Linked DNA regions of Homo sapiens: region 2 is linked to region 1. Evidence: fine-mapped expression QTL. A gene starts in region 1. The other region holds a variant in brackets. All regions are shown on one strand. Distances are from middle to middle.

Evidence for each region.
Region 2: its variant is fine-mapped to the expression of SERAC1 in whole blood (GTEx, PIP 0.94).

The regions. Positions count from the first base shown.
Region 1 is chr6:158,163,135-158,173,709 of GRCh38, forward strand. SERAC1 (serine active site containing 1) reads right to left here and starts at 5,128. Exons shown (of 17, transcript NM_032861.4): 1 at 5,006-5,128. GTF2H5 (general transcription factor IIH subunit 5) reads left to right here and starts at 5,216. Exons shown (of 3, transcript NM_207118.3): 1 at 5,216-5,261; 2 at 7,336-7,404. The coding sequence starts at 7,370. RefSeq lists silencers at 4,926-4,995, 5,036-5,215.
Region 2 is chr6:158,086,300-158,096,874 of GRCh38, forward strand. It overlaps SYNJ2 (synaptojanin 2), which reads left to right. Exons shown (of 27, transcript NM_003898.4): 23 at 556-690; 24 at 2,361-2,473; 25 at 3,540-3,648; 26 at 6,627-6,805; 27 at 9,319-10,575. The coding sequence ends at 10,065. Among named protein-coding and RNA genes, the nearest start is that of SERAC1, 77 kb to the right of the region's middle. RefSeq lists a silencer at 164-313 and an enhancer at 9,584-10,084. The variant A/T (reference allele first, on the strand shown) is at 4,731.

The sequences.
Region 1 (10,575 bases):
AGGCATGTGAAGCCACATCAAACTAGCCAGCCCCTAGGTGACCCTACAAATCCATATTCAGTCCTTAGCCTGCAAGCAATAATAAATGTTTGTTTTAGCCCGTAGCCTTTGGGATGGTTTATAATGCCTCAAAAAGCTGACATGTAACTTCTAAACTTTCCTTTACACGAGATATATGAGGTTGCTGCCAGCATAACTTGTTTTACAGTAAATTTTATTTTTTTATAAGTAGAGGGAATAGATGAATACACTATAAAATAACAATAAAAAGTATACCATAGGGCCAAGTGTGGTGGCTCATGCCTATAATCCCAGTGATTTGGGAGGCCAAGGTGGGATGATTGCTTGAGACCACAAATCAACTGACTATATCTGCGGCACATGCCTGTAATACCAGCTACTCAGAAGCCTGAGGCAGGAGGACTGCTGGAGCTCAGGAGCCCAACACCAGCCTAGGCAATACAGTGAGACCCACATCTCAAAACAAACAAACAAAAAACCCTAATGGAATACATATGTATGGACCTATTCCACTCCATCGATCTATTTATCTATCCTTATATAAACACTGCACTGTTTAGATTATGTAGGTTTTTTGTTGTTTTTTGTTTTCTTTTTGACAGAGTCTCACTCTGTCGCCCAGGCAGGATGGAGTGCAGTGGCCTGATCTCAGCTCACTGCAACCTCCGCCTCCCAGGTTCAAGCAATTCTCCTGCCTCAGCCTCCCAAGTAGCTGGGATTACAGATGCCCACCACCATACCTGGCTAATTTTTGTATTTTGGGTAGAGACAGGGTTTCACCATCTTGGCCAGGCTGGTCTTGAACTCTTGACCTCGTGATCCACCCGCCTCGGCTTCCCAAAGTGCTGGGATTACAGGTGTGAGCCACCGCACCAGGCAGATTACTGTAGTTTTTAAAGTAAGTCTTGAAGCTAGTAGTATAAATTTTCCAGCTGTGTCCTTCCTTTTCAAGACGGACTATTCTAGGTCCTTGGTACTTCCACATAATTTTAGAGTCTGCTTGTCAATTTCTATTTAAAAGCACCTTTAAGATTATGGGGCCAGGCACGGTGGCTCACGCCTGTAATCCCAGCACTTTGGGAGGCCGAGGCAGGAGGATCACGAGGTCAGGAGATCGAGACCAGCCTGGATAACCCGGTGAAACCCCATCTCTACTAAAAATTCAAAAAATTAGCTGGGTGTGGTGGCGGGCACCTGTAGTCCCAGCTACTCAGGAGGCTGAGGCAGGAGAATGGCGTGAAACTAGGAGGTGCAGCTTGCAGTGAGCAAAGATTGCGCCACGGCAGTCCAGCCTGGGCGACAGAGCGAGACTCCATCTCAAAAAAATATATATATATATTATGACGGTGATTACATAAAATCTGAAACACTGATTTTAAGTAGAGAACGGAGAAATTTTGAGACTAAGAAAGACACAGAAAATAAAAGGGAAGAGATTATAATTTAAAAATAAAACAAATATTTGAAAATTCCATTAAGTTTAACAATATGGAGGTCACTGGGATCTTCATATCAGTAGCTTCATTGCCCTGGTGGAGGAAGCCAGAGTGAAACATCATTTCATGCTTTCATTCTGATTAATAAAACGTGAGTTGTAGCTAGGTACACAGACAACAAAAAAGACTACATCACCTTTCTTTCTTTCTAGTTAACTATGGGCACTTACAAAGAATTGGCTAATGAAATATGAGTGGATGTGTCATGTGCAATTTCTGAAAAGTGTCCTTAAAAAGAAGGGTATGTGCCTTTCTTCCTCCTTCCCTCCTCCCTCTTGCTAGAATGAGCAACTGACAGTTTGAATTAAAGCAGTCATCTTAACACCAAGCATCTTATTAAGGACGGTAGAGCAGCCAGATAGAAGAATCCGAGTCCCTGATGATTACAGAGCTGCTTCCATAAAAGCATGGCTGCCTACCTATGCAATTACATACATATTTAAGCCAGTATTATCTTGTTTTCTGTGTAACACAGCTGATTCCAACACACCACAGTTTTTTGTTTTTTGGTTTTTTTTTTGAGACAGAGTCTCTCACTCTGTCACCCAGGCTGGAGTGCAGTGGCGCGATCTCGGCTCACTGCAAACTCCGTCTCCCAGGTTCACACCATTCTCCTGCCTCAGCCTCCCAAGTAGCTGGGACTACAGGCGGCTGCCACCACGCCCAGCTATTTTTTTGTATTTTTAGTACAGACGGGGTTTCACCGTGTTATCCAGGATGGTCTCAATCTCCTGACCTCGTGATCCACCCGCCTCGGCCTACCAAAGTGCTGGGATTACAAGCGTGAGCCACCGTGCCCGGCCCAGTTCTTAATATCTATATGCCAGTGATCTCAGAGTACCTCTAGCTACGATCTTTCCTGACCTATCTATCCAACAGCTATTGGAACATTTCCACTTGGATGTCCAACAGGCCTTTCATACTCAACTGTCCAAAAGAGAATTCTTTACTTTTTCTCCCCAAACTCTTCCTCCACAAATCTTCTCCATCACTATCCATCAAATGGTCAATGCTTTTTGATTGTAAATGGTAAATGATCTACCTCTTAACTGAAGCAAAAAAACAGATGTTGCCCTTGATTCCTTGTTTTCCCCTTACTCTACATCTAAACCACGCAGAGTTGCTCTTCTCTACCATCAAAACATACCCCCAAATCCATCCATTTTTCTCTGTATTCACTGCTACACTCTTGTCTAGTTCAAGCCAACATCATCTCTCATTTGGAGTAATAAAATGACACCTCAAAGGTGCTTTTTGTAACTTAAGAAATCCTTCTCAGAGACATTTAAAAAAAAAGTTCTGGAGATAGATAGTAGTGCTGGTTGCACAATGTGAATGTCACTGAACTCAACAACTCAACATGGTTAACATGATAAATCTTATGTGTAACAAGATTTAACAAAGCAAACAAAAAAGAAATCTTTCCTAGAGACAATGGTCTCTTATATTCCTTTCCAAATACCTTGCAGCTGTGCCATTCACATTTAGGTCTTTATCTGGAAACTGTTGTCAATAGTTTGAAAGTAAGAATCTAATCCTGTCTGTATACCATAACAATGCCAGATATCTCAGCAACCATATATTTCATCATCCTTTATTGAATAGTCTATGCTTTCCCCCTGCTTTGCAATACCACTTAGTGGTATACTAAACTCCCGTATGTAAATAGGTATGTTTCTAGTGTCTCTATTCTGTTCCATGAATCTAATTCTCTATCCCTGAATCAATATCATACCATCTTAATAATTACAACTTTATATTAAGCTTTGGTATCTGATAGGGAGAGACCTTATTTTTCTTCTTCTTCAAAATTGACTTCACTATTCTTGGTCCCTTGCCTTTCCATATAAATTTTAAGTTCAGCATGGCAAATTCCATAAAACAATATGGTGATTTTAATTGGCATTACACTGAATTCGTAGAACTGAGGAAAACTGACATCTTTTTGTTGAGTCTTTCCATCTATTAATACGGTATATCTCACCATTTACTTGGGTCATCTTTTGTGTTCCAACAGAGCCTTACAATTTTCTGTCTAAAGGACTACACAGCTTTAGGTTCATCTATTTCTAGGTACCTTTAGTTTTGAATGCCATTATGAATAGTGTCTTTTTATTATTAAAACTCCTAGTTAATTGTTACTGGTATACAGAAGTTTTTAAATGCAGAAATTAAGGCCATTTCTGACATCCCCCTGGCCAAAATAACCCCTCTAGTCACTCTTTATCACATCACCAAATGGTACTTATTCCTTAACTGATTTCAGAGTCTCTCTGCCCCCACCAAAATTAGTTACCTGTTCACCATTGTATCCCAAGCGTCTAGAATAATAGCTGACACACATCAAGTGCACAAAAATGGAACTGATGAGATCAAGGAAGAGAATGTATGCAAGATGAAAAAAAGCAAATAAAAGATACTTGGGAAGAAGAAGACTTGGAGGCAATTTTTTTATTTTAAAGAGAGTGCAACAATATGGAAATCACCAGTTGGAAAAGATTTGAGGGATAGAAAGAGGGAACTAAATGGAAGAGCTGGGTTCCTTAGCGATCACATGAACACACACGATGTTAAAAAAAAAAAAAAAAAAAAAAAGGCAGCATGAGGTCGGGCGCGGTGGCTCACACCTGTAATCGCAGCACTCTGGGAGGCCGAGGCGGGGGATCACCTGATGTCAGGAATTCCAGACCAGCCTGGCCAACATGGACAAACCCCGTGTCTACTAAAAATACGAAAATCAGCCGGGCGTGGTAGCGCACGCCTGTAATCCCAGTTACTAGGGAGAATGAGGCAGGATAATTGCTTGAACCCAGGAGACGGAGGTTGCAGTGAGCCCAGATCGCGCCACTGCACTCCAGCCTGGCAGACAGACCGAGACTCCATCTCAAAAAAAAAAAAAAAAAAGGCAGCATGAGCTTAATGCGGGAAGTACAATTTAACCTAAGGAACAGAAAACAAGAATCTCATATCTCAACTAGTAAAAATAATGACAGTGTTCCTTTAGACTTACAGAACAGACTTGGGGAAAGGGAGTAACTTTAGAACCTTCTGGGGTCTTTCACTTTAAAATGACCGTTGCCGAGTTTAGAGCTCTCTCAGCATTCAATCTATTCCATCTCTGGGGTTAGAGAGGGAGCAGGAAGCGGTGGTCTGCAAGGCTCAGAAGTGACTGGTGAGGCCCTTTCCTCCTCCTCCTCATCTCTCCGTGACTACCGAGCCCGGGAAGACGGACCGGCAGGTGCACTCCCCAAGGCCTCGACAGCAGCCAGAGAAAGGCAGCGACAGGGAAAGACGAGTCAGGCTCGCGACCACCAGAGAGAGAGGCCCTCACGCCCAGCCGAGCGTCAGCTGGTCGGTCCGGTCCGCGCGCCAGACGGCGGTGCTCGGCCGTGCCCGGTCCCTGCCCTCCCCATTCTCCGCTCCCCACCGCGCCCAGCTGCGCCGACGCCCCCGTCCGCCCCCACACCACCCCTGCCTTCACGTCCTACCTGCCGGCAGGCGGACTCAGCCCGTGCCCAACTGCTCGTCGGACCCCGTTGTCTGGGGAGCCCTACTCTTTCCGCGGCTCCCGGCCGGGACCCTCCACCCGGCGGCTGGCGGCTCGTGACCCCGCCCCCTCGGCCCGCTCTGGGCCCGCCTCCCGCCGGCTGGCTCCACCCACAATAGCGTCCCTAGCGCGATGGCGTATCGGCGCAGGCGCACTCTGCCGGCAACGCCGAGGCGCTTCTGCATCTGTGGGCCGAGGTGTGTGGCGAGCGTCCGAGCGGCTGGGGAAAGTGGGGTGTGGGAACACTGAGGGGTCCCAAAGAAAGGGGAGAGGAAGAGAAAAGCCCCAGAAGCCTGTCCACCGGGTGCTGGGGGCACAGGGCGGTGTCCCCCACTCTCTCCGGGCCCTTCCTGGCGGGGCCGCACGGCAGTCCCCCCCTCGTTTAATCGTGGGTTTCCTGTGGGGCTAGGGCTCGCCCTGCGCCCAGGTGTAAGTGGAAGTTAATTAAATGGGCGTACGCTGAGTGGTTTGTTTCCAGCCTAGGTCCGCACGGGACGTGATTTATTTAGTGAAGGGGCACAAGATCTGGAGATCTGGCTTGTACTTTTTTCCTTTGGCCAGGAACTACGGCTTAATCTCTTCCTTTGGTCTCCTCATATGTAAAATGAGGTGGCTGAGGCCGGGCGCGGTGGCTCACGCCTGCAATCCCAGCACATTGGGAGGCCGAGGCGGGCAAATCACTTGAGGCCAGGAGTTCGAGACCAGCCTGGCCAACATGGTGAAACCCCGTCTCCACTAAAAATACAATAAATTGGCCTGGCGCGGTGGCTCACACCTGTTGTCCCAGCACTTTGGGAGGCCGAGGTAGGTGGATCATTTGAGATCAGGAGTTCGAGACCAGCCTGGCCAACATGGTGAAACCCTGCCTCTACTAAAAATACAAAATTTGGCCTGGCGTGGTGGCGGGCGCCTGTAGTCCCCGCTGCTTGGGAGGCTGAGGCAGGAGAATCGCTTGAGCCCGGGAGGCAGAGGTTGCAGTGAGCCGACATCACGACACTGCGCTCCAGCCTGGGCGACAGAGTGAGACTCTGTCTCGAAGTGTATATATACATATATATATATTATATATGTATTTTATATATAATATATATTTATTTTATATATAATATATAATATGTATATTATGTATATTATATATAATACGTATATTATATATAATACATATATATAATATGTATATTATATATTATATATAATATTATATTGTATATTATATATTATATATAATATATTGTATATTATATATATTATATATTATATATATTATATTGTATATTATATATAATATATTGTATATTATATAATATATTGTATATTATATATAATATACAGTATATTATATATAATATACTGTATATTATATATAATATATTGTATATTATATATAATATATTGTATATTACATATATTGTATATTACATATAATATATTGTATATTACATATATTGTATATTACATATAATATATTGTATATTATATAATATATAATATATATTATATAATATATTGTATATTATATATTATATAATATATTGTATATTATATATTATATAATATATTGTATATTATATATAATATATTGTATATTATATATTATATATTGTATATTATATATTATATATAAAAGTGTGTATATATATACACACACACACACACGATACAACACAGTACATTAGCTGGGCTTAGTAGTGCATGCCTGTAGTCCCAGCTACTCGGGAGGCTGAGGTGGGAGGATCGCTTGAACCCAGGAGGCAAGAGGTTGCAGGGAGCAGAGATCGCGCCACTGCACTACAGCCTGGGCGGCAGAGCCAGACCCTGTCTCAGTAAAATAAAATATAAACTAAAAGGAGGTGGTTGGGCTCACTGTATAATTTTTGAAGCACCTTTCAGAACTATCTTCTTTGATTCCTGTCTCCCAGGATCTTACCCTTTGTCATTCTCCTGAATGGGAAAAGAAATCCTTTGAATAATGGACGGTTTATACCTGGGTTGGGCACACTGGTGTAGAGTTAGGCCTCTTGCTTCTATTAGGGCTAATTGACCTTGGGTAGAATTGGCTGGCGAGTAAGATGTGGCATTAATATTCCAAGTAGACTCATTTTAATTTTGTTAAAAAATCAGAATGTCTTTTTTCTTAATGTTAACTGTCTTTCATAGACTTAACTGTTAAATATTGACATTTAATTATTTTGCCTCGTTTCAGAGGCAGATCCCCAAAGTATATGAAAGTTAATGATTTTTAATTTAATGTTACCTTACTCTTTTTATTAGCATTCTTCAGGTCATCTGAACCTTCTGAGAAAACATGGTCAACGTCTTGAAAGGAGTGCTTATAGAATGGTTAGTAGTTTTGATACTGCATGAGTTTTAAGTTTAAATATTGAATCTTGACTTGTATGTATGTCTTTTCTAAAACCCTGTTGTTTTTAAGATATGGATGAAATCAAGTCTTTCGCTTTTAACAAGTGGCACAGATTTTGTTGCAAAGCTCCTGGTGCCAGATTTCAGTCCCTCTGTTGAATTGATGGAACTGGCATGATCAGAGGCAGCATATTTGTTAGATGAGTCGTCTTTAGAGAAACAGTGCTTGCATTCTCCTCAAACATGATGAATTTTAGGGCCTGAAAGAGTTCAGGAACTTGCTTAAGTCTTTACCATTACAAACTGTGGACTTTAAAAAAGAGAAAAACAACAGAGCCAAATGGAGGTTTCTTAAATTCCTTTAGGTACATTCCAGAGGAGAAACTAAAAACCATAAATGGGCAGAGTTGAGTTCCTCAAAGCAATCCAGTGTCCAGGAACCCCGGGAACCCTGCTCTGTGGACACTCCCATTGTCTGAAAATACTACTGTCTACTTTCGGTGCCTCTAATATGAGCCAGTGCATGGATAATGATACTGTTTACTGTGATGGCAAGGCTAAGGAGGAGCAAGACCAAACCCTAGGACACTGCCAACATTTAGAACAGCACTAGCCAATAGAAATCTAATGCAAGCCACAGATATAGTCTTACATTTTTTCTAGCCATCTTAAAAGTAACGTAAAATGAAACAGGTGAAGTTAATATCTTTTGTTTAACCCTGTCTATGCAAAACACTATGCTTTGAACACATACTAAGTCTTCAAAAAAATCTTCATCTTCAAAGTCGAATGGATATTTTAATTTTACAGCACATCTCACAGACTAACCGTGTTTCAAGGACTCTGTAGTGACCTGACTAGTGGGCTACCTTATGCATAGTGCAGATTTGGAGTTTTGATACAGGAGACACCAACAAAGGCAACTAAGAAGAAAATAGCCAGTGAGGCTGGAGGGAGGAAAGCCAAAGGAGGAAGTGTTTTGTAGGGATGAGCGGCTGTGTTGGGCACTGATTGAGAACTGGCATGAGATGAAGACTGGAGTTTTGATGAGAGCCATTTGAATGGAGTGGTGGGGAGATGCCAGATTGAAGTACTGTGGAAAAGGAAAGGGAGGTGAGGAGGTGGAGATGGAGACTTCGGAGAAGTTTTACTGTGATCATGAGCAATCTCATAGAGAACTGGATTGGTAGCTGACGAAGGACATGGTGAGGGGCTCAGGTTCTTGCTATTTTTATTTTAATGTGAAAGACTAGAATGTACGTTGATGAGAGTAAACCACTGCGGGGGAGAGGTATTCACTTGGAAAAGCAAAGGGGGTGGGATCTGGACCCCAGAAGTTCTAAACACACTGTTCTGTTGTCTTTTGAAGGCACTAGGTTTGATGTACTTATTTTCCTATTAATTTGACATAACATAAACATTTTCCTCGTTGGCCTTTAGTGTTATTTTTAAATACAGAGGATACACATACACAGAGTGTCAGCTATCACTTTTTTTCCCTCGTTTCTTCCAATTCTAAGTTTAATCTTCACCCCTGGGTTTGTTAAATATTCACTTCTCTCTTCTGAGGGTTTTGTGTTTTTCTTGGTGTTTTAGATTCATTCATCTAGAATTTATTGGGAGGAGTGGCATAGGTTTGTTAAATATTCACTTCTCTCTTGTGGGGATTTTGTGTTTTTCTTGGTGTGTTAGATTCATTCATCTAGAATTTATTCAGAGAAGAGACATATTATTAGATAAGGATCTAAATTAGCTTCTTTTTTTTTTTTTTGACACGGAGTCTTGCTCTGTTGCCAGGTTGGAGTGCAGTGGCGCGATCTTGGCTCCTGGATTCAAGCGATACTGCTGCCTCAGCTGCCCGAGTAGCTGGGATTACAGGCACACACCACCACACCCGGCTAATTTTATTTTTGTATTTTTAGTAGAAATGGGGTTTCACCATGTTGGCCAGGCTGGTCTCGATCTCTTGACCTCATGATCCACCTGCCCCGGCCTCCCAAAGTGCTGGGATTACAGGCATGAGCCACTGCACCCAGCCTAGCTTCTTTTTTGTTTTGGGTGTTTTTGTCTGTTCATTTTGCCAAATATCTAGTTCTCCACCATTATTTCCTTTCTTAATGATGCTTGATGCCTCCTTAATCACATAATTTTACTCCCCTTGCTATTCTCTTTCATCCCTTCCCACATTCATCTTTCTTGTTGCCTATTCTAGAATAACCTTGAAATAACTTAGTCTGTTTCCAAAATAATCCTTTTGGCATATTGGTTGGAATTGCATTAAACCTACGTTTTAATTTGAAAAAAAAGATGACTGGATTGCATCTTAAAGAACAAAACTCTGGGGAGACTCTGAAGTCTCAGTGCCCGGTTTGCTGTCCCGTATCTAACCTCTGAATTCTACCTGGTCTCTCTAATGACTGTCCATCACCTTGCACTTCAGGGTAATCCCCAGACTAGCAGTAATAGCATCATCTGGAGCTTGTTAGAAATGCAAAATCTCAGACCTCACCCTAAATCTACTAAATCAGAATTGTGCATACAAAGAATCTTGTTAAGATGCATTTAAATTTTGAGAAGCAATAATACTGTTAATCAGCTTCAGTTTAATAATGTTTCCCTGTGGAGAAGTGTTTTGCACCAGGACTATTAAATTTTATTTTGCAGGTTAGGTACCATCCTTGCAAAACTAATTTTTCCCTTTGAAGTGAATTCTAAAGTGTAGTCTGCACAATTTTTCAAAAGGGTAACTCTGTCTTCCCAAAAACACAAGTCTTCCAAAAAGATTTTGGGCCTAAGAAATAACATAGATTCCCAAAGGAAAGGGTATGGCCAGTGCTAGTGGATTCCCTTTCACAGTTAGATGCAGATGTTAGGATGGTAACTGGAAAAGTCCTTCAGTTTCCCTCATGTCCATATTTGATGCCAAGGAGAAGCCTGTTAATAATATGATTATCAGTATAAGTCTGTTTATTACTTCATAATATCCATGGATTGTATGAAGCATTTAGGTGTATTGGAGTATGGAATTTGATAGGTCTGGAGTTTACAGGCAGACCACTCAAGGATCTTCTACAGCTGTTGCAGGTGAATACCAAAATTGAGGCTCAGCCCTGGAAGCCAAGTTGGTTTTTGGCTTCATGCAGGAAAGAA
Region 2 (10,575 bases), 77 kb before region 1:
TCTTGGAAGGTGTGTGCAGGGCAGGTCAAGATGGCAGACCCTTGGGAGTGGCCAGCCATGGGCCCACAGGGTTTGGGATTTGATGAGTAAGCAGGACCCCTGGTCCTAGGCACTGGCCACTGCATGCCAGGCTGCTCTGCTGCCAGAGCAGGGAGAACACCCTCAGCTTCCTCAGCCGGTGTGTTCTAGAGTGAGGAATTGAAAACATCTGCCTGTGGTTGGTTGACTCTTCAGGGGTTGTGGTTTGCAACTGTCTCCTCCACTCTGCCCAAGTCTTGTTATTTCACAAGAAAACACACTTTGAAATAGCTCAGTGTCTCTCAAGTCTGAGAAATACCCATTATCCATGGTTCACTGAATGTTCCAAGCAGGCACTGGGTGCCCTCCCCGCCCCCGCCCCTCGCCGGCAGACAGAGGTGCCCGTTTCTGGACAGAGCCTTCAGCTGTCCTACAGCAGGTCCCCCTGCCACAGTCGGCCTCCTGTGCTCAGATCCGTGTCTGACACGCTCACGTGTGGAACAGACCATTGTACTCATGCCCCGCCATGTCCTCCAGATGACGCGGACCTGGTGGAGCTCAAGCGGGAGCTGGAAGCCGTCGGGGAGTTCCGCCACCGTTCTCCGAGCAGGTCTCTGTCGGTCCCCAACCGGCCTCGGCCACCTCAACCCCCGCAGAGACCCCCCCCTCCAAGTAAGACTCTGCTTGCTTTCAGCTCCCTGGATGCCTGCCAGGAATAACCGCGCGTTCCCTGCTACTGAAAACACGGCTCCGAATCCACTTCTCCCCGGCCTTCCGGTCCCCACAGGGCTTCCTCCTCCTTGGGCTCCGTTTTGTTGTAAATCCAGGACACGTTTGACGTCAGGGCTGGTTGTGTTTCTCATGGCAAATGAAACAGCTCCTTTCCAAAGCTGCTGTTCACCCTGGAGCTGTGCTATTGCTTCAAACTGCTCTCCCTTGGCAGCATTAGAGGATGCAGAATGGGGGCCGCAGCCATGGGAGGGACGTGAGCTTCGCAGTCAGAAGTCTCTCCTCAGCTGCTGCGCAGTCCTCCCTCTACTTATGAGGAATCTGGTAAACCCAGGTCCCCGCCTGGAGGTGACCTGGTCACCCCTCTGCGCTCCGAGGCCTCCTGTTCCCCGGGCTCAGAACAAGTTCCCCCTTATCCTGGGTCTAGGAGCATTTTCTTCTGGTTGTTCGAACAATGCTTTGCCCGTCCAGCCCTCCCTGATAACCTGAAAGCAAAGCTGTGATGTGCTTTTGATCCACTTGCATTTTCCCACCACTGTTTACTTCTCCCTCCCCAAAAATGTGATGATCAGACTTAGATCTTCCTAAGCCATTACTTCAGAATTGGGCTCATTGTGGCTGACGTCACGGTAGTAACCAATGGCAAGCCACAAGCCCAGATATAAAAATAACCCAAAAATAAAATGCATAAGTCATGTATTATTGTGGAAATTTTAGAGATAACTACAAAGAAGAACAAAATTTTAAAATTCACTTGATGACCTACGGGTCGTAGTTGTTGAAAAAAGTCTTCTTTTTCCAGTTTCATGTATCTGCAGCAACATACTTCTTTTTTTTTTTTTTTTTTTTTAACAAAATTAATACCCATTTTCTCTGGTCGGTTGTCTTTTATTTAATGGGTTATATTTTCTGTGTCATTGAATGTTCTAAAACATGATTTGTTAATGGCTGCAAGTATATTTTAACAGTTTATTCCCCTGCTTTGGAATTTTTTTTTTTTTTTTTTTTTTTTTTTTTTTTTTTTTTTTTTTTGAGATGGGCTCATTCTGTCCCCCGGGCTGGAGTGCAGTGGTGCGATCTCACAGCTCACTGAAGCCTTGACCTCCCCGGCTCAAGCAATCCTCCTACCTCAGCCTGCCAAGTAGCTAGGACTGCAGGCGCATACCATCAGGCTTGGCTATTTTTATTCATTTATTTATTTATTTTGTAGAGACAGTTTCACCATGTTGCCCAGGCTGGGGTTTTTGAAATATTTTTTCCCCACAAAATATTTTAAAAATCTGGTCCTAGCAATAGTATTTGGAACCATTTCAAAATCAATTGGTTTTTATATCAGATCTGAATCCCCCAAGATGTTAAAGTTTGCATTCTAGTAATGCTTCTCCAGATCATCTACATCAATAGGCACACACTGGTAGAATCAAGTGAGAAACTCCATAGAGAGTCAAGGAAGGCCTGGCTCTGTGGGTGCCCTAAGTGCCGAGTGAGTATTCGGACCTCACCGTGTCTGTGGTCTGCTGGGACATCCGCCTCGTCTAGTCGGGCTCCTGGCAGCTGGCTGGGAAGTTGTGCCTTCACTGAGATTGAGACTCTGCCCTCGTTGGTTTTTACAGCCGGTTTAATGGTGAAAAAGTCGGCTTCAGATGCGTCCATCTCCTCCGGCACCCATGGACAGTATTCAATTTTGCAGACGGCAAGACTTCTACCAGGAGCACCTCAGCAACCTGTGAGTTCTTCTGCATACATTTCAATCCCAAGGGTTTTGCCCCCGGGATAGTGTGGGATCTCTCTTCTCAGTGAATATATAGATTTATGTGTCTTTAACCCTCTACCTGCTCACCATCTCATCTCCAAACCCCATAACCCTTCCTCGCAGGTTCTCCATAGGGCTTTTAAATGGTTGTATGGAGTGTTCTAGAAAAAATCACTTTTGATGAAAAATCCCAAATATCCCTGGTTTCCATACTCATCCATTTCTCTCTCTTCCCATTCTTGCCTCTGACCTTGGTGTATGGGCAGAGCATTGCTTGGTAGAAGGGAAAATGGGAGAAATTCAGGTCGTTATCCTGGGAAAATGATGATCATTCTGGAGTGAAGTTGGTTGAGAGAAGAGGCTAAAAAGAGATGTAAATAATGAAGTTGGGGAACACACTAGGAAGACTAACAGCCATAGAGGATTGTGGAGGTGCCTGGTTCCAGAGGGTACCATGAGCTGCTGGGGAAGAGAGCAGGTGAAGGCAGGGAAGTAGAGGGGAGAGAGGGGAAGCTGGGTGCTAGGGGGAAACTGCTATGACCGGGATGCCTCTGGGGTGCTGGGCCTGGTTAAGTGCTTGTGCGGCCCCAGCAGGTGGAGGGGTGACTGGAGGCCAGTGTTTTACAGTAGTGAAAATAGGTCATAAAGGCAACCCACATGCTGGATGAAGAAGTAGAAAAAGCACTTTTAAGGAAGGTATTTTAACAACTCAGTGGGACCATGGAAAGAGTGGCCTCTTATTTTGCTTTCTGGCTTTCACCTGGTTATTGAAAAAAAGATAGAAGATGGTCTGTCCATATGCAAAAATCTGTAATCACCCGGCTTTGAAGACCAGGGTCATCAGGTCTAAGTAGTATGGCACTCTTGGAAAGAGAGTGCTCCAGGAAAGAGAGGATTGCAGGGTGTGGTGGAGGCTGGAGTTTGTATGGTCAGCATCGTCTGGTGGAGCCCTGCACAGACCCACGGGTAGCAGATACGTCCCACGAGGCTGTCCTCCTGCCTCTGCTGATACTCTGCTCTTCCTCATTCTGTCCTCAAGCCCAAGGCTCGGACTGGAATAAGTAAACCTTATAATGTCAAGCAGATCAAAACCACCAATGCCCAGGAGGCAGAAGCAGCAATCCGGTGTCTCCTGGAAGCCAGAGGAGGTAGGTGCTTTCCTGGGGGCAGGGGAAAAACCAATTCTCCTTTTCTTTTTATCTCCCTGCTAAAAGTGGTCTAGAAACGAAAATAACTCTTTTTATTCTTCTGGAGGCAATATTAAATGAAAACATCCTTTAGCAACATTTTATATAAATCTATACTAAGATTGATTGTCCATTTAAAATTGTATTTTCAAAATTCTGTGTGTATATAAAAATCATCCCAGGGCTATTAAGCGGCGTCTAAAGGAGAGACCGAAAAAAACCAAAATGAGTTTTTAAAAAAGGTGAATGCTGCCGGCATGAAGTCATTCTGCCAGCTTTATAAAACAGAGACAGTTATAGTGTTTGTCCTAATTTCAGGCACAAAATCTACCTTTTAAATCACTGGCAAGTGGAAATAAAGTTTTTAGTGTCAGGCAGGGACCTCTTTCCCACCACATTATTTTTTGTTGCTGTTACTTAAACCATGTTAGTTACCTTGGGCTCTCCCCCACTTCATTCATAATCACTGGTAATTTACACTTTTAGTTTTGGCCTTGGCTTTGTTCCAGAATCTCCTAGAGAGGAGAGTGTGCCCTTTTCTTCGTTTTTTTTTTTGTTTTTTTTTTTTTTTTTTTTGAGACTGAGTTTCACTCTGTCAGCTGGACTGGAGTGCAGTGGCTCAATCCCAGGTCACTGCAACCTCCGCCTCCCAGGTTCGAGCAAATATCCTGCCTCAGCCACCTGAGTAGCTGGGACTACAGGCGCGCAGCCCCATGATGAGCCAATTTTTGTATTTTCAGTAGAAATGTGATTTCACCTTGTTGGCCAGGCTGGTCTTGAACTCCCAACCTCAGGTGATTCATCCACCTTGGCCTCCTAAAGTGCTGGGATTACAGGTGTGAGCCACCACACCTGGCCGAGTGTGCCCTTTAAAAAGGTGTAAGCAATCACCATTGCTTAATTTGCTTTTAGTCAGCATGTTTAACTTCTTTGGAATTCTCAAATAATATTTAAGGGGGCATGAGTTAAAAGGTCGAGAACTACTGTTGTAGAATGATACTGCTACAAATGCTTTCTTTTTTTTTATTTTAGAAAAATAACTA[A/T]AACTAGGCCGGGCGCGGTGGCTCACGCCTGTAATCCCAGCACTTTGGGAGGCCGAGGCGGGTGGATCACGAGGACAGGAAATCGAGACCATCCTGGCTAACACGGTGAAACCCCGTCTCTACTAAAAATTCAAAAAATTAGCCGGGCGTGATGGTGGGTGACTGTAGTCCCAGCTACTCAGGAGGCTGAGGCAGGAGAATGGCTGAGCCCGGGAGGTGGAGCTCGCAGTGAGCCAAGATTGCACCACTGCACTCCAGCCTGGGTGACAGAGCAAGACTCCGTCTCAAAAAAAGAAAAAAGAAAGAAAGAAAAATAACTAAAACTATGGATATAACAACCCAAGTGTCCATCAGCTGATAAATGGATAAACAAAATGTGGTCCATCAATACAATGGAATATTGTTCAGCCATTAAAAAAAAAAAGAATGGGGCTGGGTGCTGGGTGCAGTGGCTCACGCCTGTAATCCCAGCGCTTTGGGAGGCCGAGGCAGGCGGATCACGAGGTTAGGAGATCGAGACCATCCTGGCTAACACAGTGAAACTCCATCTCTACTAAAAATACAAAAAAATTAGCCGGGCGTGGTGGCACGTGCCTGTTAGTCCCAGTTACTCGGGAGGCTGAGGCAGAAGAATCATTTGAACTGGGGAGGCAGAGGTTGCAGTGAGCCAAGATAACGCCACTGCACTCCAGCCTGGGTGACAGAGCTAGACTCTGTCTCATAAAAAAAAAAAAAAAAAAGAATGAAGTGCTGATACATACTACTTCATGGGTGGACCTTGAAGACATTATACTATGTGAAAGAAAGAAAAAAAGGCCACATAGTGTACCATCCCCTTTTTATGAAATGGCCACAGCAGGCAAATTCATGGGGTCAGAAAGTTCTTCTTGCTTTCCAGGGACTGGAAGGAGGCCTGGGTGGGGAGTGGCTGCTGTGGGGCTTCTTTTTTGTGTGATGAAAATGTTCTGGAGTTAGATCGTATGATGGTTGCACAACTTTGTGGATACACTAAAAACCAATGAATGGTACACTTAGAAAGGGTGAATTTCACGGTATGTGAATTATGTCACAATAAAGCTGTTAAAAAAAAAAAAACTCTAGAGATGTAGATGTTAGTAGAGGTGTGAAATCTACCTACAGTCCCGGCTTAACACTTTCTTGGTCATGGCCCCATTGAGATTTTGATGTCTTTGGATCATCTACCCTGAGAAATGTAAGTACACATGAGACTTTGCATATGATCTCAGGGTCTCACTGGTCCCCATCCAAACTATCCACAGACCCCAGATCACCACCCCTGCTAGGAAGGTGAGCATGAAAACCTGGGACTGCTGGGTGCGGTGGCTCACGCCTGTAATCCCAGCACTTTGAGAGGCTGGGGTGGGAGGACTGCTTGAATCCAGGAGTTCGAGACAAGTCTGGGCAACACAATGAGACCCTCTCTCTACAAAAATTTTAAAATTAGCTGGGCGTGGTGGTTCACACCAGTAGTCCCAGCTACTTGGGAGGCTGAGGTAAGAAGACTGCATGAGCCCAGGAGTTCCAGCAACATAGTGAGACCTCATCTCTACTAAAAATTTTAAAAATTGGCTGGGCGTGGCAGTGCTCACCCGTAATCCCAGCTACTCAGGAGGCTGAAATGGGAGAATTGCTCGAGCCTGGGAGGTTGAGACTGCAGTGAGCCGTGATCATGCCGCTGCACTCCGGCCTGGGTGGCAGAGCGAGAGCCCATCTTAAAAAAGAAAAAAGAAAAAAAGCTGGGACTGAATCTAGCTGATTACTCCTGAAATACACTGAATTAGTAAATGACACTTAGGATGTAGACTGTCTAAGGACGAAATCATGCAGTGAATTGCCTTGTCCTTTACACTTCAGCCATGTGGTTTTATGTTTCAGGTGCCTCCGAAGAAGCCCTAAGTGCCGTGGCCCCAAGGGACCTTGAAGCATCCTCTGAACCAGAGCCCACACCGGGGGCAGCCAAACCAGAGACCCCACAGGCGCCCCCACTCCTTCCCCGTCGGCCCCCACCCAGAGTTCCTGCCATCAAGAAGCCAACCTTGAGAAGGACAGGAAAGGTAAAAGCCTGGTAACATAAAACCTCTTACTCCTAAGTTGCTCACATGTCTCGATAGATAAGAATTGTGGCCTGTAATCCCAGCACATTGGGAAGCCGAGGCAAGCGGATTACGAGGTCAGGAGTTCAAGACCAGCCTGACCAACATGGTGTGAAACCCCGTCTCTACTAAAAATAGAAAAATTAGCCGGGCGTGGTGGCGCACGCCTGTAATCCCAGCTACTCAGGAGGCTGAGGCAGGAGAATCACTTGAACCCAGGAGGCAGAGGTTGCAGTGAGCCGAAATCGTGCCACTGCATTCCAGCCTGAGCAGCAGAGTGAGACTCCACCTCAAAAAAAAAAAAAACAAAAAAAAAAAAACAGATTTGCGTCTCACAGATAAAAATCTAGTTCCCTATGGACATCCTCACGTTCATGAGTCCCAGACACAGGTGTGTCTTTGGGGAAAGTTTTGACAACTGCTTCTTCCCTCATATCCTACTGTGTCTTGGCTCTGGCTGAGAAGAACGAGGAGTCCACTGTCTGGCACATTGTCAGTGTGACAAGAACAGCTTGGAGGTATTATGCTTCCTAAGTGTTTTGAGTCCCCAAAGGGAACCATAGTGGGATGCTTTTCCCCACATGTTCTGGTACCGCCCATTTGCGTGTGGTCTGTGTTGTGTGCACATGGTTTCAAGGCATTAGGAAAACAGTAACCGATTCCCAGATTCGCCATGTTCACATGCTCTCGTGCGGCCTCAGCCTACGAGAGGTTCCACAGCTTTTCTTGCCACTTTTCTTGCAGATTGTTTTTTGCTCTCGCTCTCAAGCTTCTCAGCCTTGCTTACTGCTTCAAAGACATGAGTTTGTAAGGACAGTAGCAGCCCAAAGACTGGCATCTGTAGACACATCTGGATCTTCCGTTTGATCTCAGTGTTCTAGTAACGGACCCTCGGTAATCCCTTCCTGGTCATCACAGCACGATGCTGCTTCCCCCCTAGAGAGTGTGAGGGGGGCTTCGGCTTCACTCTTGACAGCGCTTGCTTTGTATTTCCTGGGTTGCTCTTCTGTCCCACATTGGCTCATTGCCATCTGTCCCTTGTCCATGCTTCCTTACAAAGTGGACCTTTTTCCTCCGCCTCTTCCCTGTTCAGATGCTCCTCGACTTAAAATGGGGTTACATCCCAATAAACCCATCGTAAGTTGAAAAATAGCGTGTCAAAACTGCATCTCATACACCTAACCTAGCAAACGTCATGGTCTCGCTGACCTTGAACACACTCAGAACACATACATTAGCCTACGGCTGGGCAAAAAAAAAAAAAAAAAAAAAAAACACCCATCCAACACAGCCTATTTTATAATAATAAAAATAAAAGATCAAACTTCAAAATTCAAAGTATGCTTTCTACGGAACATTAGCGCTTGTGCACTAGGGTGAAGTGGAAAATCCTCAGTGGAACCATTGTAAGTCGGGGACCACCTGCTTTGTCTTTTCTTGTAAAAGCCAGGAGCAGAAATAGATTCATTTTCCCAACCTGCTGCACAGGAGTTAAAGTTAAAAGGCTGTTGGAAAAGAGACTTTCTTTTTTCTTAGTTTGTTTTCTAAAGAACCAAAGAAACACTGAAACGCCAATGTTTAACTAGTCTACTGATCACCTTTTCTGAACAAAAGCTTCATTTTGCCTGTGCAGTTGTTTTCTTTGTGATAGATTTGAACCAGAACCAAGGCAGTGTCAAGGTTTCCATTCTTTACCAATATTTAAGTATAAAAGATTCAAGGAGCTGGGCGCGGTGGCTCACGCGTGTAATCCCAGCACTTTGGGAGGCTGAGGCGGGTGGATCACCTGAGGTCAGGAGTTCAAGACCAGCCTGACCAACATGGTGAAACCCCGTCTCTACTACAAAATACAAAAATTAGCCAGGCATGGTGGCAGGCGCCTGCAATCCCAGCTACTCGGGAGGCTGAAGCAGGAGAATCGCTTGAACCTGGGAGGCGGAGGTTACAGTGAGCTGAGATTGCGCCATTGCACTCCAGCCTGGGGGACAGGGCGAGACTCCTTCTCAAAAAAAAAAAAAAAATTCAAGGAGAAAGTATATCCATTAGTCCTTCAGTTAGCTTATGTTGTAACACAAGTTACTTCACCCTAGCATGATACAGACCATGAATCAGCCCAGGTTGCAACTTCAAAGAGTGTTTTCAGAGAGGTTTGCTTTCAATAAAGGAAGAGCATCACCCCATTTCCTAAAGGACAAAGAAAAGTTTGTCTGATTATTTACTGTGGCCCTGGTTTTAAATTTTCCACTCGTTTTCATTGGACCTGCTGGTGTGACCTGATAAATGTGTGTTTCTCCTGTGCTTTTTCTTTTTCTTACCTGGTCACATTTCTGGCACCCCACACATTCTCAAATCTCGAATTTGCTAGAATGTCAGCTTGGTCTCATCTCTGTTCTCTGCTGGCCACTCTGTTCTCTGATCCTCAGCTGCCTAGTTATTGGCTTCTTATTTACACTCTTTGTCCCACCTTTTCTCAGCCCCTGTCACCGGAAGAACAGTTTGAGCAACAGACTGTCCATTTTACAATCGGGCCCCCGGAGACAAGCGTTGAGGCCCCTCCTGTCGTGACAGCCCCTCGAGTCCCTCCTGTTCCCAAACCAAGAACATTTCAGCCTGGGAAAGCTGCAGAGAGGCCAAGCCACAGGAAGCCAGCATCAGACGAAGCCCCTCCTGGGGCAGGAGCCTCTGTGCCACCACCTCTGGAGGCGCCGCCTCTTGTGCCCAAGGTACCCCCGAGGAGGAAGAAGTCAGCCCCCGCAGCCTTCCACCTGCAGGTCCTGCAGAGCAACAGCCAGCTTCTCCAGGGCCTCACTTACAATAGCAGTGACAGCCCCTCTGGGCACCCACCTGCCGCGGGCACCGTCTTCCCACAAGGGGACTTTCTCAGCACTTCATCTGCTACAAGCCCCGACAGCGATGGCACCAAAGCGATGAAGCCAGAGGCAGCCCCACTTCTTGGTGATTATCAGGACCCCTTCTGGAACCTTCTTCACCACCCTAAACTGTTGAATAACACTTGGCTTTCTAAGAGCTCAGACCCTTTGGACTCAGGAACCAGGAGCCCCAAAAGAGATCCCATAGACCCAGTGTCAGCTGGCGCTTCAGCTGCCAAGGCAGAGCTGCCACCAGATCATGAACACAAAACCTTAGGTCACTGGGTGACAATCAGTGACCAAGAAAAGAGGACAGCACTGCAGGTGTTTGACCCACTGGCAAAAACATGACTGAGCAGCTTTGAAGGCTGCAGTCCTATAGAATGCATACCTTCCTCCCTCTAGACATCCCTCCACCAGAAGAGACATCTATTTAAAGGCACACTGGCCAAAACGTTTGTGCATCTGTCACTCTCGTGTAGTTTACAAAAATCGTGTCTCTTATTCAGTAAGATGGTTACTCAGCCACCAAAATATATTTCACTCAAGGCTTGTACATCTGAAGTTTGCTCTTCAAGGAATGGGAACCTTCCTGTTAAATTCGGTGTATGGATTTTAAGAAAGGAATCTAGCCAATGAGGTCCAAGAAGTTCTCACCCATTGAATTTTTAAATGGCTGTTCAGTTCATGTTGTACGTGATGGAGATTTGTCTTTTGTTTTATTTGCATTTTACAGATTTGGTATAACATTTTGGGGAGCCACCTGAAGGTTGATGTATAAAGTAAGGATTAGAGAAAGAGGTCGTTGTGACCATTAGTAGCTGTCCTGGCCCACTTAAACAAGGTTACAAAAAATCAGAG